Homo sapiens: one gene and its partners. The protein of the gene in region 3 purifies or fractionates together with the protein of the main gene of each other region. This does not show direct contact. Each region holds a gene or a part of one and is shown on either strand. Other genes may lie near its edges.

Region 1 (4,094 bases), on a different chromosome or scaffold from region 3:
ACTTCCATCTGTCAAAGCACCAGCTCACTTCTCAGCTGACCTAACCCACTTCCAATGCAGCTCTAACAGTGTCATGAAAGAAAAACAAAAATATTCCTCCTTCTCCTGTACCTATCAAAGATAATCTTAGCCCCTTCTTACATTTGCCAACAAACTAAAAATACCCTCTGCCCACAAAAAAAGGACAGGCATGGTGGGTCACACCTGTAATCCCAGCACTTTGGGAGGCTGAGGCAAGAGGATGACTGCTTGAAGCCAGGAGTCTGAGACCAACCAGGGCAACATGGCGAGACTCTTGTCTCCATGAAAAATAATTTTTAGCCGGGTGTGGTGGTGCGTGCCTGTAGTCCCAGCTACTCGGAAGCTGAGTGGGAGGACCTTGAGCCCTGGATGTCAAGGCTGCAGTGAGCAGTGAGACTGCACCACTGCACTCCAGCCTGGGTGTCAGAGTGAGACCTTCTCTGAAAGAAAGAAAGACGAGAAAGAGAGAATGAATGAAAGAAAGAAAGAAAAAGAAAGAAAGAGAAAGAAAGAAAGGAAAGAAAGGAAGGAAGGAAGGAAGGAAGGAAGGAAGGAAGGAAGGAAGAAAGAAAGAAAGAAAGAAAAAGAAAGAAAGAAAGGAAGGAAGGAAGGAAGGAAGGAAGGAAGGAAGGAAGGAAGGAAGAAAGAGAAAGCAAGCAAGCCTCTGGCTGACATTTAAACCTCAGGGCACTCACATTTCTTTGCTTCTAGAAATGATGGTTCCCACTTGAGCTTGCAAGCTCTTTTATTTAAGAAACTTGGAGGCCGGGCGCGGTGGCACGCCTGTAATCCCAGCGCTTTGGGAGGCCGAGGTGGGCAGATCACAAGGTCAAGAGATCGAGACCATCCTGGCCAACATGGTCTCTACTAAAAATACAAAAATTAGCTGGGTGTGGTGGTGCACGCCTGTAGTCCCAGCCACTCAGGAGGCTGAGGCAGGATAATTGCTTGAACCTGGGAGGCGGAGGCTGCAGTGAGCTGAGATCGCGCCACTGCACTCCAGCCTGGCGACAGAGCAAGACTCTGTCTCAAAAAAAAAAGAAAAAAAAAAAGAAAAAGAAACTTCGAAAGACTTATTACTCGCAAAGCTTTCCCCAACTCAGTTTATGTAAACTGAGAAACTGAGTTCATGGCAGAATTGTTCTCTAATTCTTGATTAATTCAGGGACGACTCAAACTCTGAGTGAATAACTAGATCATTCAATGAGCCGAACCAAGAGCTACAAGTAACAGCCCGTCCTGGCCACTCAGGACTCCTATTAAAACAGCACCCTGGCCATCTAAAGAGTTCACACAGGAGAGATGTCAGGGAAAATCTGAGGAAACTTTGACACCCATAATTTAAATAACAATACATCTTTCCAATGACCCATTGCAGCACACCTGAAAATTTCCCTGAAACTTCCCTGAAAACAGGGAAGACTTGGTATTTCTTAAATTCTGCAGTTCTCAAAAGGATAAAGGTCACTTCTCAGATACCCTGGTCACTCCATGCCCCATCCTATAACCATCCCCCTTTATATACAGGCAGGGGACAAAATAAAGGTCGGCAAACGCTCTGCCTTAGTTGAAAAGCAGGCTGTTGATAGCCCTGGGAGAGAAATGAAAGAAAAAGTAGCTGATGGCCCCATGTTTCTAAAACTCCAAGTTCTATCTAAACTTTGGAGTCGTCAAAAAGTATTTGAACCCTTTCCCAGAAGTGAGCAATACCCAGGGCAGATGAAACTGGTGAGTCCGCCCATTCTTTCTTCAACGTCTGTTAATAAGAGCTGGGACGGTGGCAGGGGACATCCCCCACAACATAGAAGGCTGGAACTGAATTCTCAGATCCCCTGATAGGTCACCCATCCTCCTCCGTGAACAGCGACACACTGGTTCGGTCGGTCCAAAAAGAGAGAACAGGCCTAAAGCCCCAAATCTGCAAGTCGGCGGCCGAATAGCTGTCCCAGTAGTGTGAAGCTAAGTACCCTACTAGAAAGCAGTCTCTGTCCAGCGGCGGATTGCCCCACCACACCGCTGAGCCCCCGGCCCGTATCTGGTCAATTTCCTCTTTTCATTTTCCGCTCACTCCTCCCCCACCAAGTAGGTTCTGATTTATTTCTCCATTCCGCAGAGCGTCCCCAGCTCCAGTCCTCAGTGGCATCCCTAAATCCTGCCAGGGGCTGGTACTGTGAAGTTTCTCCCTTTTCCCTCTGGCTGTGCGAAGCCCCCAACTCCCCAGGAGCGCCGCCGGCCCTCAGCCCGCGGCGGCGGTCCCCACCCCCGCACTCACCCCCTGAGGGTCCTTGACGAAGTAGCTTCCGCTGGAGCCCTGGTAGATGCGCTCGGGAAAGATGCAGCGCTCGATGGCCAGCTCGGCCTGCCGCACCACCGCCTCGAACTCAGGATCCTCCGGGAACTCGTTCCGCTCGCGGTGGGCCTGAGCGGCGTGGGCTGCCGCCGCGGCCTGAGCGGCCAGAGCCTGGGCCTGCGCCGCCACGGTTTGGGTCTGGCCCTGGGCCGCCGCGCCCCGGGCCCGATCCAACAGTGGCTGCCGCTCGCGGTCGTGGCCCGGCGAGCCCGGCGGAGAGGGGCCCGAGCCGGCCGCCGCCGCCACTCGGACCGCGCCCCCGGGCACCTGCGGAAAGTGAGCGCCCGAGCCCGACGGGAAGGTGTAGTCCGGGGGTTGGGCCCGCTCGGGGGACACTAGTGGGCTCGTCTCGTCCATCCCTCAGACAGCCGGCTCCGGGACCCGGCGCGCTCCACACCACTGCGCTCGCGGCCGCGACCAATCCGTGACATCCCCCAGGCCCCGGCCGGCCAACCAGGTCGCGACGCCTCCTTGGCCCCGCCTCTAACCTGCCCTGTTTACTTGGCTACGAATAGGCACGGCCCCTCGCGCGCGAACAGTAGCCAATCAGAACCTGCTCCTACGCAATCGCTGCCTCCGCATTTTTCTCCCCGTCACCTTCTGTGAAGACTGCGCATGCTCCAGGACCCAACCTTGGGTCAGGCACGCCCCCTGCCCCTACTATACCAGCGCCACGCTTAGCTTCCAATTGGCTTACTGGACTTGGGCGCTTTCAAAACAGCAACTATCCTGTCAGTCACTCATTGAGTGCCTACTCTGAACCGGCTGTGAGATTGGAGGAATCTCATCTATGTATCCTCATTCATTCAGTCAGGCACTCATTCATTTATTGAGCACGTACTATGTTCTAAGTGCTAGGGAGACAGCAGTGAAGCAAAGAAACAAAGCTGCTGCTCTACCTCGATGAAACGTTTTTTTTGGGGCGGGGGGTTTGTTTTTTGGGTTTGTTTTTTTTTTTTTTTTGAGACAGAGTGATCAGTCTCCAAAAAAAAAACGACAGAGGTCAAGTGATCTGCCCACCTCGACCTCCCAAAGTGCTGGGATTACAGGTGTGAGCCACTGCGCTTGGCCTGGAAGTAGGTTTTTAAAGGAAAAGAGGCAGTTCCTAACTTGTTTACCAAGAATTTACATTAAAATAACAAGTTATAGATTGGCTATACATTGTACTTTGTATCCCAAATTCGTATCTCAGTTGACCTAACATACTTCCAATGTAGATGTAACAATGTCAGGTTACACTTCAAGTTCGCAGGAACTTGAAGGTAATGGGTGAAGTAGCCAGTCAGGATAAAATGTCTTAACAATTGCCTCCAGGTTTTCCTAGGAAGCCCTGAAGATTTCTTTTTAAAATATTATTATTATTTTTTTAGAGTTAGGTTATCTCTATGTTGCCTGGGCTGGTCTTGAACTCCTGGCCTCAGGCGATCCTCCTCCCTCAGTCTCCCAGAGTGCTGGGGGATTACAGGTGTGAACCACCCACAGTGCAGCCAAAAAATAAAAAATTTTTAAAAGAAAAAAACCCGCCAGGCACAGTGGCTCACGCCTGTAATCCCAGCACTTTGGGAGGCTGAGGCAGGCGGATCACCTGAGGTCGGGAGTTCAAGACCAGCCTGACCAACATGAAGAAACCCTGTCTCTACTAAAAATACAAAATTAGCCGGGCATGGTGGCACATGCCTATAATCTCAGCTACTCGGGAAGCTGAGGCAGGAGAATCGCTTGA
Region 2 (3,500 bases), on a different chromosome or scaffold from region 3:
TCTTCTCATACCTCACAGGCTATCCTGCTGACATCTCAAATCAATTTGCAGTTCCCAGAATTGCCTTGATTTTCTTTGGTTTGCTTTTGCCTGTTCATCTTCCTTAAGGTCTTACCGTCTCTGGTACCCTGGGTACCTCTACTCATTTGTTCTAGCTCCTTGAGGTTTCCAGGTTCCCAAATTCTATTCTATTCTTTTCTTTCTTTCTTTCTTTTTTTTTTTTTTTTTGACAGAGTCTCACTCTGTCTCTAGGCTGGAGTACAGTGGCATAATCATGGGTCACTGCAGTTTTGATCTCCTGGGCTCAGGTGATTCTCCCATTTCAGCCTCCAAGTAGTTGGGACAACAAGTGTGCGCCACCATGCCTGGCTAATTTTTGTATTTTTTGTAGAGGCGAGGTTTTGCCATGTTTCCCAAGCTGGCCTCAAACTCCTGAGCTGAAGCAATCCACCTGCCTCAGCCTTCCAAAATGCTGGGATTACAGGTGTGAGCCACCGCACTTGGCCTGGGTTCTCAAATTCTTGTATAAATGGCATGCATGCCTGCATAGTTCTTGCTCACCTGGTTCTTCCTCAGTTTAAGACCTTTGATTTAAGAGGGGAGGACATGTTTTAAACTGTTTTTTTGTTTTGTTATTGTTGTTATTGATGCATCCTCGAAGACTGGAAATTATAATCATTGAGCTTTACTGTAAATTAAAATTGTCTTTTTTTTTTTGAGACAGAGTCTCGCTCTGTCACCCAGGCTGGAGTGCAGTGGTGTGATCTCCGCTCACTGCAACCTCTGCCTCCCAGGTTCAAACGATTCTCCTGCCTCAGCCTCCTGAGTAGCTGGGATTACAGGTGTGTGACACCACAGGCCCAGCTAATTTTTGTATTTTTAGTAGAGATGGGGTTTCACCATGTTGGTTAGGCTGATTTCAAACTTCTGACCTCGTGATCCACCCACCTTGGCCTCCCAAAGTGCTGGGATTATAGGCGTGAGCCACCAGGCCTGGCCGCCTCCTCTTTTTAAAAAATATTTTATTACCTTAATATATATTTGTATAGCTTAGCATCTTGTTAGGTTTTACTTGGAGAAGTACTTTTTTTTTGAAAGCATTGATTTGGCTGGGTGCAGTGGCTCAAGCCTGTAATCCCAACACTTTGGGAGGCCGAGGTGGGCGGATCACAAGGTCAGGAGATCGAGACCATCCTGGCTAACACGGTGAAACCCCGTCTCTACTAAAAATACAAAAAATTAGGCGAGTGTGGTGGAAGGCGCCTGTAGTCCCAGCTACTCCAGAAGCTGAGGCAGGAGAATGGCGTGAACCCGGGAGGCGGAGCTTGCAGTGAGCCAAGGTCGTGCCACTGCACTCCAGCCTGGGCGACAGAGCGAGACTCCATCTCAAAAAAAAAAACATTTAAAAAAGCAAAGATTTTTTTATCTTTCATTAATAAATACTTGTTTTAACTGCTTTATAAATTTTTAATTTGCATAATTTTTATAAATAATTACCCAGTCAGCATAGGAAAGTGAAATACTGAGTTGTGAACTTGCTCAGTCTTCGCTCCCTTCTCCTATTTTATTTATAGACTGCAATATGCTTTTCTCCTTTTTAGTTGCCAGTTTTTCAATTTAGAATAAATTAGTTAAAGAGAAGAAAACATTATACTGCAGAAGAGGCTGCTACTAAAGTAGAATGATCAGCTCCAGTAATCTTTGAACCCAGGTGGTCAAGTTTCTTCCATTTATTGAGCACCTACTACGTATCAGGGATTATATAGATGTTTGAGGTGCCTTAGTGGGCAAAACCAATTAAATAAACGTAAGCTTTTAGAGCTTACATTCTGGCAGAGGTAGACAGAAAATAATACACATACTATATAAACTATAGAATTTTAGAAGTATAGGTATTATGAGAAAAAACAGAATAATACACATATAAACTATAGAATTTAGAAGTATAGGCTTTATGAGAAAAAACAGAATAATACACATATTAACTATAGAATTTTAGAAGTATAGGTTTTATGAGATGAGACATATGGGTAGGGTAGGAGGACAGGGATTGGAGGCAGGTGATAATTTTGTTTTTTGTTTATTTGGTTGGTTTTGAGGCGGAGTCTTGTTCCGTCCAGCCCAGGCTGGAGTGCAGTGGCGTGATCTTGGCTCATTGCAACCTCTGCCTCAGCCTCCTGAGTAGCTGGGACTACAGGGGCGCACCATCACGCCCAGCTAGTTTTTGTATTTTTAAAGTAGAGATGGGGTTTTGCCATATTGGCCAGGCTGGTCTTGAACTCCGGGGCTCAAGCCATCCACCTGCCTTGGCCTCCCAAAGTGCTAGAATTACAGGCGTGAGCCACCGTGCATGGCCTGATAATTTTAAATAGGAGTTAGGATAGACCCCATTGAGAATGTAACATTTAAGTAAAACTTGAAGTAAGGGAATTACCCATATGGACATAGGGGCAAGAGCATTCTGGGTAAGAAGAACCTGGCTTGAGTGAAGCAGTCAAGGGAGAGAAGCAGGAGATGGGTCAGCGAGGGAACTGGGGAGGGCCAGATTATATAAGGTCTGTAGGCCATTGGGAGGACTTAAGTTTTCAGTTTGAGTGAAATTAGAGAGTTTTAAACAGAGAAGTGTCTCTTGAAGAACTTCACATACTATATCTTGAATTATTCACCTCTTGGTATGAAATTTGTTGTGTCTTTAACATATTTCAGATGTGCGTATGATATTGATATTTAAGCCAGTTGGCTCTGCATGTATTTATGGTTAAGGCTGCTCCTACATGTGCCTAAATTTGTTGGTGTAGGGTCCTTCTCCCACACCTGAGGATGTCTCCATGAAGGAAGAGAATCTCTGCCAAGCTTTTTCTGATGCCTTGCTCTGCAAAATCGAGGACATTGATAACGAAGATTGGGAGAACCCTCAGCTCTGCAGTGACTACGTTAAGGATATCTATCAGTATCTCAGGCAGCTGGAGGTAGGTGGGCCTTTGTGTTTTGGTTGTATAAGCAATGTGGAATTTACCACACAGCTGGGAAGCAAACAAGGTCAGCTTTTTAAACTTTTGATTCTACCCACAGGTTTTGCAGTCCATAAACCCACATTTCTTAGATGGAAGAGATATAAATGGACGCATGCGTGCCATCCTAGTGGATTGGCTGGTACAAGTCCACTCCAAGTTTAGGCTTCTGCAGGAGACTCTGTACATGTGCGTTGGCATTATGGATCGATTTTTACAGGTAGGTGTGGCTTCAGGGACTTCACGCCAGTGGCTCATTGAACATTGCATTTATGCTTGGGGGATAGAAAACTAAAGTGGGTACTTCTGAAAAAAAGACCAAAAATCAAATTGTGAGAAGCCAAAGAACTTTGGGGACTAAAAAGGGAAGTAATCCAAGTGTGTCAAGCCTTTGATGATGCGGACCAATAATGGGCATTTCTGTAAGGCCAGCCAGCTAAAAAGTACTTGGGGGAAATATTGCATTGCCACAATCCTTCATCAGAGGAA
Region 3 (3,500 bases):
GCCAGCTCTTTCTCAGTCTTTTAGAGGATCATTCCAAACAATCCTTCTCCTTCCCTTATCCATGCAAGAAGCTTCATGGTTCTTTCTGCCTGTTAATTTAAAATTATTTTTCCTAGTAAGAGAGCAGAGTGTCTGCAATTGGCTAGTAATTTCCTAGCTGGTCCTATAACCTACTTTACCTGGCTACTGGCTATAAAACTAGGATGATGATTTTGTCCACTCTGGGACAATTTTGAGAGCAAATGTGGGTATGAACTTTTCAGCTGGGATTACAGAGTGCTGTATCCCTCTACCCAAAACCATTAATTATCATTCTCTCTCCCTCCCTCCCTCTCTCCTTCCTATCTTTTTTATGCCTGCACTCCCCATAAAGGTGTTCTTGGTTTCCTGACAGTACACGCTTAGTCAATTTCTATTTATATGATTGACCTGTTAATTGTTAATTAGTTAGTTGAGTTTAAATAAATGAGCAGCCTTTTCAGATCATAAAACCCTGGCAGTCTGTAGGAGATCTAAGGCATGAAAATCCATGAGAACTTTTAACTTAAAAATATTCAAATGCTCATTTCTATATCATCCTTTGTGGATCCACTGTCCAATATGGTAGTTACTGGCTTCATGTAGCTATTTAAGTGTAAATTAATTAAAATTAAATAAATTAAACATTCAGTTCTTCATCCTTCCTGGCTGCATTTCAAGCACTCAGTAGTGCTTGTGTCTAGTGGCTTCCACATTGGACTGGGTAATTATAGAACATTCCTAGCATCTCAGGAACATCTAGTAGGCAGCTCTAGAACCCACTGTTCTCTAGGATCCTGTGCTTCCACTTCAGGACATGTTATTCAAGGCCCGCTGCTGCCCCCCAAGGGTCTCTTAATTCCTCCGCTAGAACTTACTGATGTATTTTTACTTATGCTTTTCAGGAATGTTGGGCTTGGAACTTGTTCCATGTTCTCCCGAGTTGGTGGGATTATTGCTCCCTTCATCCCCTCACTGGTTGGTTTGTACCTTCTAGTTTTGTTTTTCTTGATTCTCTGCTTTGGAAATGCTTATGCTTTTTAGTAGAAAGAGGTGATGAACAGATGTCATTTAAGATCAGCTGACACAAATGTGAACCTTGGCCCTTTTAGATAGTATTCCGTCAGGGCAGATGGACTCTTATCGAGGATTCATTTGCCTCCAGTGGGTCTGATTTTTTGTTCATCTGGATTTGTTGGAGGGTCTGCTAATGCCAGTGTGCCCCATTCCTGTCCCCATGAAAAAGTTAGTCAACTAATAAGTATGTATGACACTTCTGCTGTGTGCTGGGCTCTATGCCAAGCACTTTCTACATATCATCACATGCAGTCCTCATAGTAACCATAAGAGGAAGGCATTGTTGTTACCCCTGTATTAAATATGAGACATGCTACAGAGAGGTTAAATACCTTCCCCCAAGAACACACCTCCTGGAAAATAACATTAGAGGAGAAATATGTCTCTCACTGTGTCTGTTAATATTTTTTTTTTGAAACTTTCTAACTTGTATAGTCAAAGAAAGGGAACCAGATTAAATGACAGCCCTAAAATCCTTCATCTTAAAATGCTCAGATTCTGTGAAAGAACCCAGGGGACCCCTACGCAAGTCTCTCCTTGGTTTGATTTGTGACTTTCCACAGCCAAGACTTTTTGAAAGCAACTAGATTTGATGTGGGACTTGTGGACCTGTTCTGTAGACAACTGTTCATTACTTAGGCAGGTCTCTGAAATGCCATTATAACCTTTTCATTTTCTGAGGTGCAGTACATTTCCCTTCTCAGAGTATCTCTCTCCATGTCTCATGATTAATTTTAGTTCACAAGACCCTTCTCCTAAAGGAGTCATGTAGGTCTGTGTTTTATTCTGCAAAATATAGGTACTGTTAGAGATATCTGACTTTGGATAGCTATCCTACAACATTATAATACCCAGCACTGTGTCTCTGTTGCTTCCTACAAGGTTAGAAGAAGGGAAAGTGTGTGTTCCCCTTGTTTCAACAACAGGCCCACAGTGCTGGACATATGTTTGAGTGTAGATGGCTAGAGATGAGAGATTCTCCTCCTCCCTCTTCCTCCTCATCCCTGTCTTCTGCTCGGTTCTCTCCATCTCTCCCTTCTCCTCCCCCTTCTCCCTTTTCCACCTCCTTCTCCATCATCTCTTCACTTTGAAAAATCAGGAAAAAATTGTCTGAGGGGAAATCCTAATTAGTAGTGGACCTACCCACGAAATTTGGAAGCCTAAACCAGAAGATCATAAAGCTTAGCAGGAATTCTAAAATGTTGATCAGCTCAGAAAAGCCCCAGAGAAACACCCTGGAAGCAACTGTTTTTCATGTTTTCTTTGAATCTCTTTGTGATGAAATGTTTCCGTTTTCCTGAGAATATGTTTTGGATCTCTGAAACAATTGCTTGTATCACCAGCCCTTAACCATGTTCAGTTTAGAAGTTTATAAGCCATATGTATGTCGTAGGGTTGGTTTTTTAAAAGAGTTTTTACACCTTTAATCCCTGGAACTCTCAGTTACGGTCTTAAGGTATATAGGATGGTTTGGCCAATTCCAGGATTAAGAACTTTAAAGTTCATCATCAGCAAGTATTTTGGGATGCCTCTGTGCAAAGTGTGCTCACCTGGAATGGAAGCTGAACTACAAGATGTCCTGTCAGCTCTGGCCATATAGGCCTGCCTGCTCAGAGGCAGCCTGGCCTCTTCTCCTACAGTACCCACCCCGGACATGAAATTGCTGCTTCTAATGTACAGACTAGTGCTGTCCTTTTATTTACTCACTCCCATCTCTACATGCCTGAGGAATCATTCTCTGATTTCCCAGGATAATTCTTTATGTGGAAAGAAGTGGCTTATAGTGTTGTCTAGTGCGAGGTCATGAACTAGGTGGTAAACATGACAGTTTTTCAGTCATGAGACTGCTTGTATTACATGCTAAGGAAACTAATTCTCTGGTTTATTTTCATTCCACTCCCCGCCTCTGCAGAAATATGTGCAATGGTCTTTACCATTCATTGTCTTCGGAGCCACGGGTCTGACCTCCGGCCTCCTGAGTTTGTTATTGCCGGAGACCCTTAACAGTCCGCTGCTAGAAACATTCTCCGACCTTCAGGTGTATTCGTATCGCAGGCTGGGAGAAGAAGCATTATCTTTACAGGCTTTGGACCCCCAACAGGTGTGATATTTTTCTTAATTATTATACCGCTTGGATAGTGGCAGTTAATGAAAAAAAGAAGGTTTGCGTTAAATTAAATAGAACTGAGTAAAACTGCTGGAAAACAAAAGTGGGATCTAACAGCAGCTGATTTTCAGAGAAATAAGGATGATCGATGATTCATTAGCTTTCCTAGAATATTTTAGGGGCTATTTCTTGGGGGAATGAATGTCATATAAATACATTTGTCAGTTGAATAGCTAGATGGTAGTTTCCATTTCAGAAATGTCATAACATCATTTCACTGCCCTTTTCTTCTTTCCTG
Region 4 (3,500 bases), about 46 Mb from region 3:
TGGCTCATGCCTGTAATCCTAGCACTTCGGGAGGTCAAGGCAGGTGGATCACTTGAGGTGAGGGGTTCAAGACCAGCCTGGCCTATATGGTGAAACCCCATCTCTACTAAAAATACAAAAATTAGCCAGGCGTAGTGGCTCGCACCTGTAATCCTAGCCACTCAGGAAGCTGAGGCAGGAGAATCACCTGAACCCAGGAGGCAGAGATTGCAGTGACCTGAGATCACACCACTGCACTCCATGACCCAAGATCACACCACTGCACTCCAGCCTGGGAAACAGAGCGACTCTATGTCTCAAGAAAACAAAACAAAACAAAAACCTCATAAATTAAAAAAAAATTTTTTTTCAATTGCTAATGAAAACCTAACAGGACTATGGAGCAAAAAGACAATAAGTGAAAGACTAATATGAATAATAAGATGTTAATAACATTGAGAGGGTCTCATTCAAGAAATGTGGTTTTACATATAATTAGTGTAAGATGTTAATGAGCCATATATTAGAGTTGTTAAAATCAAGGATTGCTAAGACACAAAATTGAGTTAGAATCCCAGCTCCAATACCTGGTAGTTGTGTGAATTTGGGCAAGTTACTTTCTATTATGTCAACTTAACTCACTTGCAAAATGGGAATTGGGCCACTAACTCATAGTTAAAAATTAATGGAGATAACGTATATAAAAAACTTAGTGCAGGTCAGGTGTGGTGCCTCATGCCTATAATCCTGGCACTTTGGGAGGCCAAGGCAGGTTGATCCCTTGAGCTCAGGAGTTTGAGACTAGCCTGGGCAGCATGGCAAAACCCCATCTCTACAAAAAATACAAAAAAAAAAAGTAGCCAGGCATGGTGGCACACATCTGTGGTCCCAGCTACTTGAAGGGCCAAGGTGGGAGGATTCCTTGAGCCCAGGACATGGAGGCTGCAGTGAGCCGAGATCATGCCACTGCACTCCGGCCTACAGGACAGAACATGACTCTGTCTCAAAAGAAATTAAAAAAGAGAGAGAGAGAGGGAAGCAGTAAATGGAGGAAAAGCTTTTTCTCTACCCTCCGTTTTCTGCCGAACTACAGAGTATAAATTTTGCTTCACTGGAGATAACTCTATACTCTTACTAGCCCAGTGACAGCACCAGAGGAATTTGCAAACAAACCTTACTCCTTTCCTGTCCTTGGAAACCTAAAATCACTTTCATTTGTCCTGTCATTTCTCTATAAATTTATTGTTCTTTGTTGAAGATGCTATATAAGTAGAGTTCTAAGCCACTATTTTGAGCTACTTTTTTTTTTTTTTTTTTTTTTTGAGACATAGTCTTGCTCTGTTACCCAGGCTGGAGTGCAGTGGCACAATCTCGGTTCACTGCAACCTCCGCCTCCCAGGTTCAAGCAATATTTCTGCCTCAGCCTCCTGAGTTGGGATTACAGGTGTGCATCATCAAGCCCAGCTAATTTTTGTATTTTTAATAGAGATGGGGTTTCACCATGTTGGCTGGGCTGGTCTCAAACTCCTGGCCTCAAGTGATCTGCCCAACTCAGCCTCCCAAAGTGCTGGGATTACAGGCATAAGCCACTGTGATCAGCCCTTGAGTTACTTTTCCTTGGGGTTTCTTGTGTGGTGTGCGGCACGCATTAATAAACTTGTTTGCTTTTCCCTTATAAATCTGTCTTTTGGTACGAGAGTCCATCTCAACTAAGAACTAAGTTTGGAAGAGGTAAAGTTTAGTTTCCCTTATGGTATAATGGAGGCCAAAAGAAAAGACTGTTTCAATATCACACTACAGAGACTTTGAAGAGAAAGAAGCCTGAAAAAGCCATAAATTTTGTTGGTTAGAAGTCATTGATGATCTCTGAGTAGCAGCCGAGGGATGTGGAAAGAAAGGAAACAGAGTTTTTTAGTATCAGGCAAGATGAAAGACAATGTTCTTTCCTTGAGAAGCTTATCAAGAGACACAAAAAGTAAATACTTATAATTGAGGGTGACAGGGGCTATGATATAATTGAGGGTGACAGGGGCTACAGAATGATATAAACATGCACAGAAGAGGTTTATGACAGACTAGGGTAGCCAAAAGACGTGGACTGGTTGACTCCTGAATTGAGGAGTCTAAAAAAGAACAAAAGAACTGGTTGAAGGAACTGGGGAAAGCAGAATGGTGAGAGAAAGCATGACATACTGGGAAATTGCAAGTGTAGTGTGTCTAGTTGTATGAGTAGTATACATGAAGATTAGTAGTAAGAGAAAAGTGGCCAGACACAGAAGAGAAAAAGTAGCCTGAAAGGGTTTTACATATGAAGTAGATCACATTTTACTCAGGAAGCAATGGACAAATATTTTGAGCAATACAATATAGTAGCTAAAACACCAACTGTGGAGCCAGAGTGATCCAATTCTGGCTTCGACAATGACTAGCTGACTTCAAACAAATTACTCAACCTCTTTTGCCTCAGTTCTGTCAACTATATAACCTCAGAGGGTTTACTGTGATGATAAAAATGGGCTGTTAAATGTAAAGTGCTTAAAATAGTGCCTCACGCATAGCAAGTACTGTATACATTTTAGTTACTGAGCATAGCCATTACATGATTCAATCTATTTCAGGGTGATTACTCTGGTGGCAGTGTATTTAGGAAGCTATCTCAGTAATCCAAATGAGAAATGATAAGGGCATGTTGTTTAAAAATGGAAGGACAGAAAATAGACTAAATAGACTCAAGAGATCCTTAGGATTTTGTGATTGATCAGATATAGAGATAACAGGAAAGCTAAGAAGTCTAAGAAGAAATTTCAGGTTGCCAGCTGGGGTAAATAAGGAGATAATGGTGTTACTACCTAAGACAGAGAAAAGAGGAAGGAGGGAAGAAAGCATTATCTGATTTAGACACACTAAATTTTAGACATCTATGTTTATCCAAGTAGAGGTAGGCAAAAGCACTATAGATGTGGTGATATGACGGAAGAATAGAGTTAAAGGTATATATCTGGTTGACAGTTACCAGTGTTTATGTACTCACTGATGAGATGTCAGAGATTGCTAGTTGTCTCCCCAGTATCTGTTCTCCCATTAGTCTTTGTGAAAGAACCTCTCTTCCAAATTTTTGGATGAGCACATGACTTCCTAGAATAGACTCCTTTTCTAGAAATCCTTGCAGCTAGGTGTTATCATGTGACTAAATTCTTTTTTTTTTTTTTTTTTTTTTTTGAGACAGGGTCTTGCTCTGTCACCTACACTGGAGTGCAGTAACTCAATCACACCAAACTGCAGCCATGACCTCCTGGACTCAAGTGATCCTCCCACCCCAGCCTCCTGAGGAGCTGGGACTACAGATGCATGCCACCATGTTCAGCTTGTTTTTACTTTTTTTTTGTAGAGACAGAGTCTCACTATGTTGCCCAGGCTGGTCTTGAACTCCTGAGCTCAAGCAATCCTCCCACCTTGGCCTCCCAAAGTGCTGGGATTACAGGCATGAGTCACCATGCCCGGGTTAAATTCTAACCAATGGA
Region 5 (4,129 bases), about 130 Mb from region 3:
CTGTAATCCCAGCACTTTGGTTGGCCGAGGTGGGCAGATCGTCTGAGCTCAGGAGTTCGAGATCACCCTGGGCAACATGGTGAAACCCCGTCTCTACTAAAATACAAAAAATTAGCCGAGTGTGGCGGCGCGTTCCTGTAGTCCCAGCTACTCGGGAGGCTGAGGCACAAGAATCGCTTGAGCCCTGGAGGCGAAGGTTGCAGTGAGCCAAGATCACGCCATTGCACTCTAGCTTGGGCTACAAAGTGAGACTCCGTCTCAAAAAAATAAAAATAAAAATAAAAATACAGTGAAAACATTGGATTTAGAAGGAGGACCTGAAATTTGAGTATTTAAAAAAGGAAAGATGGCACTCCAGGATGAAGGACATGAGCAAAGAAACATCAGAGTGGAAACATCTCTTCCACAGAATGAGTCCAGGATTGATGACGATTCTGGAATAGCAAAAGCATAAAATTTGTTAACATATGAGGATAGACAGTAGCATATACTTATTGTAGAGACCTTTGAGCTAACCGAGGGAAGTTACACTTCATTCTGGGAAGAAAGAAAAGTCCCTGAAAATATTAAAGGTAGGCGTGAAAGACACAACGTTTTGCTTCCTCTTAAAATATATCTGTACCAGCCGGGCGCGGTGGCTCACGCCTGTAATCCCAGCACTCTGGGAGGCCAAGGCGGGCGGATCACGAGGTCAGAAGTTCAAGACCAGCCTGGCCAATATGGTGAAACCCCGTCTCTACTAAAAATACAAAAATTAGCCGGGTGTGGTGGCGTGCGCCTGTAATCCCAGCTACTCAGGAGGCTGAGGCAGGAGAATCGCTTGAACCTGGGAGACGGAGGTTGCAGTGAGCCAAGATTGTGCCACTGCACTCCAGCCTGGGCAACAGAGCAAGACCCCGTCTCAAAAAAAAAAAAAGATGTATCTGTACCTATGAAAAAGGAGAAGCATAAAAAGAAAACAAAAGTCTCAAAACTGATGTATAACGATCTTTTTTATTTTATTTTAGCAACAGGTTCTCGCTCTGTCACACAGGCTGAGTGCAGCGGCGCGATCCTAGCTCACTGCAACCCTCGAACTCTCAGTTTGAGGCTGAAGCTCAAACGTTCCCCCCGCCTCAGCCTCCCAAGTAGGCGCGCGACTAGAGGCGCCACCAATTCCCGGTTGACATGATGTTTTAAAAATTTTTTCAAGATAATTATTGTTGTTTGCAAACTCGTGACAGCTTGGTAGTATGTTACTGAAGGATCAGGATCCAAAAATCACAGTACAGAGACAACGTAGACTTCCCATAGCGCTTGGCACACTTAAAACATCCCTTCAAGTATTAACCTTAACTGGGCTTGTCATCCCAGGTCAAATCCTCCGAAATAAGTAAACCACTCTAATTTCTTCTCTCCTAAGAGACTCTATCAGTGAAAGCTCACAAAAAAACAGTTTAAAAAAAAAAAAGGGGGGGTCTCGCCATGTTGCTCAGGCTGGTCTCAAACTCCTGGGTTCAAGCGATCCTCCCGCCTCAGCCTCTCAAAGTGCTGGGATTACAGACAGGAGCCACTGCGCCCAGCCAAAGACAGTTCTTAAAATCTACAGGTTCTTTAGGATATTCTGAGAATAAATATCGTTTAGGATTTCCCCAAAGGATTTACGTTTTGTTCTATGAAGAACCCAGTTCTTCCAAAAATTTCTACAACTGACGATTTGGAAATAAAAATAACGCTCATCTCATAAAACTTTGCACACAGATAGTATGAACCTCGTAAGCTTTGAGAACAAAATTTCCCCATCTCTCAAAACAAAACACCCAAACCAAAACAGTCAACCAGTGGCAAAAGAAACCGTCCTGTTTCCCAGGTAGGAAAAAGGAAGGCAAAGCACCCCAAGATGTGCTTTTATTTTAAATCTCCTTGATCTGACCAATCGGGTGAGCTGGAACCTCACGGCTGAGCCCCGAGTCCAACTTCTTCCCCGCCAGGACTACTCACTGTGGCCAGGCCCAAGCGCATGTGGAACACACGCCAACACAGGACAGGCTCAGCACGCCGGCCGCTTCCCTCGGGGAAAGGCCCGCCAACGAGTCCATCGCGTGGGAGAACAGTGGGAAAGGGTCGCGGCCCCGGCCGTCCGTAAAGGGACCCGACTGCCGGCGCAGGACGCGAACCACCAGCGCCGCTCCGCCGCCATGTGCCGCCGCTCCTCCGGTCCGAGATTATGTAACGAAGCCCGGCGCCCGCGAGCCTGCCGTACCCGCCACCGCCACCGCTCGCCCCCTCGAGCCCCATCCGTTGGCCCCGCGCACGCCCGGCCTAGGCCCGGCGCTCGCGGGGCAGAAGCCCCGCCGCCGCCGCCGCCGCCGCCGCCGCCGCCGCGGGTCCAGGCCGCGCGACCCGCCCTCCGCCGCGCGGGCCCAACCCCCTCCCTCCCTTCCCCCTACCTGAACGGGGCGGGTGAGCGCGCCGCCGCGGGCCGAGTCCACCGGGTCGCCAGGCCAGGCGCGAGCTCCTCCCGTGCGGGTCCGTCACAGCATCTCCCGGGAGACGTGGCCGCCACGGGCCGGGCTCACACCCCTCCGCCCGGCTGAAGCCGCTCCTCTGCGCTCCGGCCGCCGCCTGCGACCTCCCCGGCCACCTCAGAGCCACACGCCCCCGAGAGTGCCTTCGCGGGCTGTAGGCCTGCAGACCGCTCAGCGGCTAAAACGCAGTCGCTGCTCCCGCCGCGCTTCTGGGTCCTTCCCCTTGCAACGCTGCCTGCTCGCCTCGGACAGCGCCGGCCCCGCTCTGCGCATTACCCTGCGCCGACAAAACCGAGTTCCACACGCCCCGGAAGGGAGGGAGCAGAGGAAAGGGCGGAGAGGGAGGGGAGAACCGGCGGGAGATCGCGGCTGCAGGGACCAGAGTTCTCGCGATGGTTCCGCGCTCTAGCGCCGGCTCCGCGGGAATTTTCAAACTCTCGGTGAAAGAAGGAGGTGGGAGGGAAAGGGAGGAAAGAGAAGCAGGGCCTGGAAGGGCGGATCATTTACAAAAAAATCGGGTCTCTCCGCCTCCGAGGAGCTGGTGGGGAGAAAGACTACGAGTCCCACAGTGCCTTGCGCGTGAAGCCGCCCTGGCGGCCCCGGCGGCGCGCCCCGTGCGCAGTTGGGAGTGGTAGTCTTCGCTGGGGGTCGCGCCGGGCTCTGCCAGCCGCCTGCTGCGATTGCAGGCGGACTCTCTTGTCACGTAATCGTGTGGCCCTGCCAGCTGGGGGCCGAGTGATAATCTTTCTCCCATAATTGGCAGCTTGCATTCTGTATTTTCTGTTCTGTGCTCCCACTTTTCTTTTTTTCTTTTTCTTTTTTTTGGAGACGGAGTCTTGCTCTGTTGCCCAGGCTGGAGTGCTGTGGCACGATCTTGGCTCACTACAACCTGTGCTCCCGCTTTTCATGCCAAAGGTGGGCTCCCAGACTTCTGGGGAAACGCTTTTTCCACGGTGCTGTTTTTTCTAGCATCCTCCTGTGCTTTCATGGCCAAAAATGCTCGCGCAGCCTAGCCTAATCTTTTTAGTCAAAATTTTACCCCAAATCACTGTTATCTTTTTGGTCACCGCGGGTTTTCATTGTGGAATTTCTTATTTCTTGTTAGTATCTTCCTTTGAAGCAAATCCCAGCGCCAAACATGTTTCAAACAGATAGGGAACGTATCCTTAATACTAAGTAGTAAGTAAAAGGATTATAACATGAGGTAGAGTAGGGATTTTAAGAAGATGCTCTTTTATCAGGAAAGTTTCTACTTTTCTGTTACCTTTCATATGTGCTTTTTAAATTTTTTTATTTTTGAGACAGTGTCTCGCTCTGTCGCCCAGGCTGGAGTGCAGTGGTGTAATCAAGGCTCACAGCAGCCTCGAACTCGTGGGCTCAAATGATCCTCCTACCTCAGCCCTCCAAGTAGCTGGGACTATGGGCATGGACCACCATGCGCCACTACGTCCCATTAATTTTTTTATTTTATTTATTTATTTATTTATTTATTTATTTGAGACGGAGTCTCGCTCTGTCACCAGGCTGGAGTGCAGTGGCACAATCTCGGCTCACTGCAACCTCCGCCTCCCAGGTTCAAGAGGTTCTCCTGTCTCAGCCTCCAGAGTAGCTAGGACTACAGG
Region 6 (3,500 bases), on a different chromosome or scaffold from region 3:
CAATCCCCAGAGGTTTTTGTTTTTTTAATTGAGCCAATATTTTAAAAATGAGAAATTGCACATAAAAATCTGGGACTCCATCTTCTTGAGAGAAATCAACATTAGGCCCACATTCATTCAGTTATGACAGTAGTAGCTGGGGTGAAGGATACTGTCTCTGGTTTACAAAACCTCTGTCACTCACATAGTATATGTGTGTGCAGTTCGACCCAGCCTGGATCATTCACTCATGGCATCTGCTTTCTTGGTACCTGTCAGCATTTGAGTTTGCTATATCTATGGCAGACAGAAGCCACTGAAAGTGTTTAAGTAGGAGGATGGACCTGATCAGCTTTACATTGTAAACATCACCTGCCTGCCATGGAGAGAAAGAATTAAGAGACAGGGAGCACTAGAAGCAGGGCTGTCATGTAGGAAGACTAGATGAGGATCTGAATTGGTTTTGGGGATGAGGAAAAAGAAGACAGGCTAGAAAACTATTTAGGGTGTAGGACTGATAGCACTACGTGACCTAATATGAGGTTTCCATACATGAAGCGGGTAGAAGGGAAGGAGGAGCCAAGACTAATGTCTCAATTGGTGGTTTTTGCCAGTGTGTAGCTGGAGCTTCCATGTCCTGGTTTAGGAAACACAAGAGGAGAGATGACTGTTTGGAGAAGGAAGAGAAGTAGTTCAGTGTGGGACCCTATCTGAAGGTATACACAGGACATCTAAATGGAGAATCTTGGAAGATTGGAAATGTGTCTTTGGATCCATGTTGGAAGCATGGATTTGGAGTCATCAGTCTTTTATTTTATTTTTCATTTATTTATTTTGAGACAGGGTCTTGCTTTGTCACCCAGGCTGGAGTGCAGTGGCACAAAATGGCTTACAGCAGCCTCTACCTCCCAGGCTCAAGTGATCCTCTCATTGCAGCCCCCTACATAGCTGGAACTATAGGCACAACAAGCCACTGCACCTAGCTGCACACACACAAACACACACACACAATTTTTTTTTTTAGATGGCGTTTCACTCGGTTGCCCAGGCTCACTGCAACCTCTGCCTCCCAGGTTCAAGCAATTCTCCTGCCTCAGCCTCCCGAGTAGCTGGGATTACAGGCACCAGCTATGACAACCGGCCAGTTTTTTGTATTTTTAGTAGAGACGGGGTTTTACCATGTTGTCTAGGCTGGTCTTAAACTCCTGACCTCAAGTGATCCACCCGTCTCGGCCTCCCAAAGTGCTGGGATTACAGGTGTGAGCCACCGTGTCTGGCGCTACTTTTATATTTTTTATAGAGATGGGGTTTTGCCATGTTGTCCAGGCTGGTCTCAAACTCCTGAGGTGCAGTGATCTGCCTGCCCTGGCTTCCCAAAGTGCTGGGATTACAGGCATGAGCCACCGTGCCTGGCCAGCCTTTAGATGGCAGTTGAAGCCTTGGGAGTAGGTGAGCTCACACAGGGAACATGTACAGTAAGGAGAGAAGAAGCATAGGATAGATTTCTGGGGAACCCCAGCAGACACAGGTAGGATGCTGTAGAGAAAAGAAAAGAAGTCAGAGGGGGTGATGCTACAGCAGAACAGGGAGGAGACAGCTACAAGTAGGACAAAGGGTAAACAGTGGCACACACTGCAAAGAGCTTATACAAGATCCTACTTGAAAAGCCTCATTTAACTTAGCAACAAAGATGTCAGTTGGTCACCTTGAAGAGGGGAGTTTTGAGGGTGAGGGCAGCAGAAACCCTGATTGCAATTCAAGAAGGAAGTGGGGAAATGCAGAAAGACACCCGGGGAGTGTCCATGCCACAACGTGGTTGTGGTTTGGAGAGGATAATAGGACAGGCATATCGGATGGAGGAAAGTAGGCTTGTTTTTCCTGATTCTGTCTTGAACTTCTTCACTTACATTTTCATTGAGAATAAATATGAGGGGCTAGGCTTTCACTTAGTGAGCTAATAATTTGCACATCTGGACCCACCTGTGTTTTTGTTGGATTTTGAATTTTACGAAATCGTTTTAGAGGCCGGGTGCAGTGGCTCATGCCTGTAATCCCAGCACTTTGGGAGGCCGAGGCCTGAGGTCAGGAGTTCAAGACCAGCCTGACCAACATGGCGAAACCCCGTCTCTACTAAAAATACAAAAATTAGCCAGGTGTGGTGGCGGGTGCCCGTATTCCCAGCTACTCGGGAGGCTGAGGCAGAAGAATCGCTTGAACCCGGGAGGCAGAGGTTGCAGTGAGCTGAGATCAAGCCATTGCACTCCAGCCTGGGTGACAGAGCGAAACTCCGTCTCAAAAAAAAAAAATTGTTTTAGAGAATGTAGTTTGATTATGGATGGCACTCTGCATGTGGGTTGCCTAGCCGATGTTAAGTGATTTTTAGATTGCTTTTGTCCCTTTGTACATTGGTTTAACAGGATTGCCCCCGCGATGTTACGCCAGGCATCCTATGGCACCATCAAGATAGGCACTTACCAGAGCTTGAAGCGACTATTCATTGAACGCCCAGAAGGTGAGTGGGGAATCTGTTTTCCACTGTGGACAGGAGGTTGGTTGTCTGTCTTTTTATTCAAGTGGTTTTGGAGCAGGTTTTCTTCAGCTTATTTGTGACTTTCCTACTGCTACAAGAACTCTGGGTGTAAAGTCTTAGTTAATTGTGCTGAAAGCAAGTTGGTTATCAACTCAATTGAGGGGAGAAATAATGAAAAGGAACCATCTCTGCAAACATTTTAATTAGTTGTCCCCATCTCCAAAATGCCTAGACCAGGGGATGTGTTGTTACTATTCCATCCAACTTAAAATTTGCTAAAATCATATGAATTGTCATCTATTTTTCAGGAAAACAGTGAATACATTTCTTAATATTAACAACACTGAATGCTAATACTCTGGCTTTTTGGTTCTGTGGCTTTGTTTTGATCCATAGAACTGTCCATCTTCATCTCTTTTCACAATGGGATGAGTACCAGACACTATTATGTAAGAGTGGTGAACAAGAGCTAAGATGCTTTGGAAATACTTCAGGATATTTCAAACTAAATACATACGATGTGCTTTAAAAACTTTCTGTGCCAAATAAGTCGTCATGTTATCTCATAGGAATTATTGTCCTAACAGATATAGCTCATCTTAATTATGATGGTCTGAATTTATACATAAATGTGAACTGGGGCTGGGTGCGGTGGCGCGTGCCTGTAATCCCAGTGCTTTGGGGAGGCTGAGGCGGGCAGATCACTTGAGCCCAGAAGCTCCAGACCAGCCTCGGCAACATGGTGAAACACCATCTCTACAAAAAATACAAAATATTAGCCAGGCGTGGAGGTGCACGCCTATAGTCCCAGCTACTGGGGAGGCTGAGATGGGAGGATCACCTGAGTCCAGGAGGTCGAGGCTGCAGTGAGCTGTGATTGTGCCACTGCACTCCAGCCTAGGTAACAGAGTGAGACCCTATCTCAAGAGAAAAAAAATAAAATCACATTTAGATATCAATAAATTTTGCAAAGCAAAATTCCTTCATTAGT
Region 7 (3,500 bases), on a different chromosome or scaffold from region 3:
GTGCTGAAAAGAGCATTCTAATAGTTTGGGAATAGCATGCTCAAAGATAGAAAAGAAAGACAATGTGTGTAATAATTAAGCATATGGTCATCAAGCCAGATCAATTCAGTCCACTACTTGTTCTCATACTAGAACACACCCACTCTCATTCATTTATTTACTGGCTATGGCTGCTTTCATCCTACAATGACAGAGTAGTTGCAATAGAAATGACATTGCACACAAAGCCTAAAATATTTACTATCTGGCCCTTTACAGAAAAGTTTGTCAGTCCCTGTTTAAGGCAAGACTGCCTGGCTCTTATCACTTCCTAGCCATGTAGACATGAGAAAGTTACTTAATCTCTCCGTGCCTCATATTCTTCATTTATAGAATGGGGATTTACAAAAATCTCTATCATAAAGTCATGAGAATTAAATATATGTATAGTGCTTAGAAAGTCCCTCTTAGGCAAATAGTAAGTCTATATAATTGTTTACTATAATTATCACCATTACTAAGTTTGAGGAACGAAAGTTGAGTGTTAGGTAAATATTAAGTCTATAGAATTGTTTATTATTTCATCAACATTAGCAAGTTTGAGAAACCAAAGATGACCAGTGCAAGAAAATAGAGGCTTGGGATACAGCTGGAGAGCTAAACATAGGCCAAATTATTTTTCTGTAGGCTGCATTAAAACATTTTGGAGTTTATTCTAACATGAATGAAAAGCCTTCAACAGGAGTTTTAATTTGGAGAGTATCATCAGCTGAGTAGCATATTTTCCCTGGGAAGCAAAAATGTGAGGTGACTACAATAATCTCTTTAAATCCATAACAAAATTTTTATTTAACACAGAAAAATTTTATAATTTGTTGTATATTTTTATGTACAGTATTGAAAGTTATACTTTCAACAACTTTGTGAAACTAGGTTAAGTCATCAAGTAAAATGAAGTGTCTTATTAAGATTACAGATAGGAAACAAAACTTACCAATACAAACTCCCATGCAAATTGTTCTTTAAAGAGGTTTCCAGAATTGGTGGGATTACCTTAGGTTAACCTTTCGGAAATAAGTGTCCTCTGGTCATTATTCTCAGTTCTACTATGTTAGGGTAACCATACAATTTATCATTTAATCTCGGAGACTTTTGAAAATTAAAGAGGGTACTATTAAAAGTTACCTCAAAATAATAGGCGTAGCCCTGCACTATTGAATATATTTTCCATGAATCTCTGTCAGACAGAAGATGGACAAGACACATCATGAGGCTGAACTGCTAAAAAGTCATCCTGGATGAGACATCCTGAAGGATTGCACAACACCAGTTTTGCAGTCTGAAGCCCATCAATGCACTAACAACAACAACAAACCAAAAATGACTAAAAGGGGATACATATGACTTAGTGACTATTGCTTATAAGGTTCAAACTTGCTTACCTCCATGGCATCTTCCAAATTCTCTTCTGCATCTGCTTTCTCTGTCATCAGTTTGGCTGCCTTAAAATACGTTTTCATAAGTAGATAACCCCTTTTTGCTCCATTCCAGTATGATCGAGGAATTTCCACCAAGCCATACCCCAACAACAACACAAGAAGAAACAGACCCCATGTATTTGCAGCAGCTATCCCAATTGTCTGAAGCTGGTTCCTAAGAAAGGGAAACAACAGATAATATGTATATTTTAATGGAAAGATAAAATGCGACTGCATAAATAGACTTTAACACAGGAGACACTGTTTCTACTGCAGTTAAAATTAGCATCTAGAATAATTCATGGCAATAATATGTATATATTTTCCCAAAGGAAACATTTTTCATTAGGTGATTTCTTATTCTATATTAAACAAAAGAAGTTTGAAAATGTTTCAAATTAACCTGTGTTGCTGACCTAGCAAATCTCAGGAATACAATAGTGAGACCTAGCACTGCTGATCTATTCCTAAATTTTCAGATGTAGACCTTCACATATATTACAAATCATAAGTATAAAACAGATTTCAATTTTATTGAAATATCTAAATCCAAGGTAACATTAAGAACAAATATGCCTTCAAATTATAATCAAAACAAAAAAAATCACAAGTTCCAATGAAAAATAAAACCAGTTATTTTATCATAAAAATTTTGAAATTCTATCCAAAAATCATAAGGGTTATTACTTTTAATATATAGCCATTAGACTAATCATTAATCTTTTGCCTAAAATCTATATTTAAAGATGTCATTCCATATTTTCTTAGTAATATGGATTATTCACATATTCTTTTGGGGAAATCCATAAAATATGTAACAATATATTTCTCAATGAAATGTCTTTTTACCTGCACATATGAAATTAAAAATGATTTTTTAAAAATGCAAACATACATTAAAGCAATGTTAAGAAGACTACTTTTCTTACCATTCTAAATGTAAATGTGGGTTTACAGCTACATAAATTAAAAATGCTCCAAAAATCAGCAAATAGGTGCCATAGTAGATTGCATTCTCAATTAGTGCAGTTTTGATCTTTCCAGTGATGGAAAACCCTCCTGATCTTGCATATGACTGCATAAAAGGTAAGAGAATCCTAGATGGATAGAAAAAATATGATTAAAAACCCAAATAATTGATATGTCTGTATAATCTCAAAGTGCCAGAAATATATGAATCTCAATTTTAATGAATAGGTCTTCTCATTAATAAATGTTTATAAGTAATCATGAATACTTAATAACTATAATAGATGACTGAGTATTTTTGTAATATAAAATTTTAGGGAAAGCAAATGGGTCTTTAAAGCCTTTATGAAGAGTCTGGACTACATTCAAAGAAAACATTTTTGATCAAATTTTAGTTTCCTAAGGCTTCACACGGAGAATGGATAAAAGGGGAACAAAATTGGAACTAGTTGGGAGGGGGAAGGGTGATGATGGTGGTAAGAAGCAAAAAGGGAGAAGGTCAGTTGACAGCATACTGACTTTGAAGTAGTACCTAGGAGACATCCAAGAGGAGCTGCACACAAACCCAGCTTCAGGGTTCAGGAGAGCGGACTAAAAATATGGATAGCTTCCGAAGTCATCACTGTATCAATGGCAGTGAAATAACATCAGTAGATACTCAACTGTAAGAATGAGTATGGAGAATGTGAAGGAAAGAACTGAGACAGAACTCTGAGAAATATCAACTTTTAAGAGAGGTAGAGAACAGAAGGAGGGTAGACCAGCAAAAGAGACTGAGACAGAACAATAGTGGGGCAAGGAAGAAAACCAAGGAGCATATGGATTAGGAACTAGGAGAGGAAAGTTAAAGTGGAGAGAGAGAATCAAATGCCGCCAAGAGGTGAAGTAAATTAAGAACCTGTATGTATAAGTGGAGGAGAATAGAAAGCAGAGTACTATGGTTAAGAAATAAGTAAACAATGAGCAAGTGGAGATATCAAATATAGAGAATTTATTTAAGAAGTTTGGCTGGGTAGGATAAACTATGGCATATACATATAATGGGGTATGTTACAGAAATGGAAAAGAACAGAA

What was found.
Region 1: the proteins of SLC22A15 (region 3) and PI4K2A purify together in Homo sapiens (affinity purification with mass spectrometry; one large-scale study listed by BioGRID and IntAct). This does not show direct contact.
Region 2: the proteins of SLC22A15 (region 3) and CCNB2 purify together in Homo sapiens (affinity purification with mass spectrometry; one large-scale study listed by BioGRID and IntAct). This does not show direct contact.
Region 4: the proteins of SLC22A15 (region 3) and ANKRD13C purify together in Homo sapiens (affinity purification with mass spectrometry; one large-scale study listed by BioGRID and IntAct). This does not show direct contact.
Region 5: the proteins of SLC22A15 (region 3) and AHCTF1 purify together in Homo sapiens (affinity purification with mass spectrometry; one large-scale study listed by BioGRID and IntAct). This does not show direct contact.
Region 6: the proteins of SLC22A15 (region 3) and SLC25A30 purify together in Homo sapiens (affinity purification with mass spectrometry; one large-scale study listed by BioGRID and IntAct). This does not show direct contact.
Region 7: the proteins of SLC22A15 (region 3) and LMBRD2 purify together in Homo sapiens (affinity purification with mass spectrometry; one large-scale study listed by BioGRID and IntAct). This does not show direct contact.

The regions. Positions count from the first base shown.
Region 1 is NC_000010.11:97,639,377-97,643,470, reverse strand, and holds the start of PI4K2A (phosphatidylinositol 4-kinase type 2-alpha), read right to left. Parts: upstream 2,801-4,094; 5' UTR 2,729-2,800; coding exon 2,294-2,728; intron 1-2,293. UniProt on the Homo sapiens protein: Membrane-bound phosphatidylinositol-4 kinase (PI4-kinase) that catalyzes the phosphorylation of phosphatidylinositol (PI) to phosphatidylinositol 4-phosphate (PI4P), a lipid that plays important roles in endocytosis, Golgi function, protein sorting and membrane trafficking and is required for prolonged survival of neurons.
Region 2 is NC_000015.10:59,111,646-59,115,145, forward strand, and holds part of CCNB2 (G2/mitotic-specific cyclin-B2), read left to right. Parts: intron 1-2,798; coding exon 2,799-2,969; intron 2,970-3,072; coding exon 3,073-3,231; intron 3,232-3,500. UniProt on the Homo sapiens protein: Essential for the control of the cell cycle at the G2/M (mitosis) transition.
Region 3 is NC_000001.11:116,063,513-116,067,012, forward strand, and holds part of SLC22A15 (solute carrier family 22 member 15), read left to right. Parts: intron 1-923; coding exon 924-996; coding exon of another isoform or gene 997-1,000; intron 1,001-3,007; coding exon 3,008-3,196; intron 3,197-3,500. UniProt on the Homo sapiens protein: Organic zwitterion/cation transporter with apparent specificity for amino acids and their derivatives. Has low affinity for its substrates and may regulate their flux across the plasma membrane at high substrate concentrations.
Region 4 is NC_000001.11:70,278,223-70,281,722, forward strand, and holds part of ANKRD13C (ankyrin repeat domain-containing protein 13C), read right to left. Parts: intron 1-3,500. UniProt on the Homo sapiens protein: Acts as a molecular chaperone for G protein-coupled receptors, regulating their biogenesis and exit from the ER.
Region 5 is NC_000001.11:246,929,149-246,933,277, forward strand, and holds the start of AHCTF1 (protein ELYS), read right to left. Parts: upstream 2,801-4,129; 5' UTR 2,430-2,800; intron 2,211-2,429; exon of another isoform or gene 2,180-2,210; coding exon of another isoform or gene 2,160-2,179; exon of another isoform or gene 2,079-2,159; coding exon of another isoform or gene 1,981-2,078; intron 1-1,980. UniProt on the Homo sapiens protein: Required for the assembly of a functional nuclear pore complex (NPC) on the surface of chromosomes as nuclei form at the end of mitosis. May initiate NPC assembly by binding to chromatin and recruiting the Nup107-160 subcomplex of the NPC.
Region 6 is NC_000013.11:45,404,874-45,408,373, reverse strand, and holds part of SLC25A30 (kidney mitochondrial carrier protein 1), read left to right. Parts: intron 1-2,396; coding exon 2,397-2,491; intron 2,492-3,500. UniProt on the Homo sapiens protein: Antiporter that transports inorganic anions (sulfate, sulfite, thiosulfate and phosphate) and, to a lesser extent, a variety of dicarboxylates (e.g. malonate, malate and citramalate) and, even more so, aspartate.
Region 7 is NC_000005.10:36,134,888-36,138,387, forward strand, and holds part of LMBRD2 (G-protein coupled receptor-associated protein LMBRD2), read right to left. Parts: intron 2,555-3,500; coding exon 2,387-2,554; intron 1,633-2,386; coding exon 1,422-1,632; intron 1,337-1,421; exon of another isoform or gene 1,249-1,336; coding exon of another isoform or gene 1,165-1,248; intron 1-1,164. UniProt on the Homo sapiens protein: Recruited to ligand-activated beta-2 adrenergic receptor/ADRB2, it negatively regulates the adrenergic receptor signaling pathway. May also regulate other G-protein coupled receptors including type-1 angiotensin II receptor/AGTR1.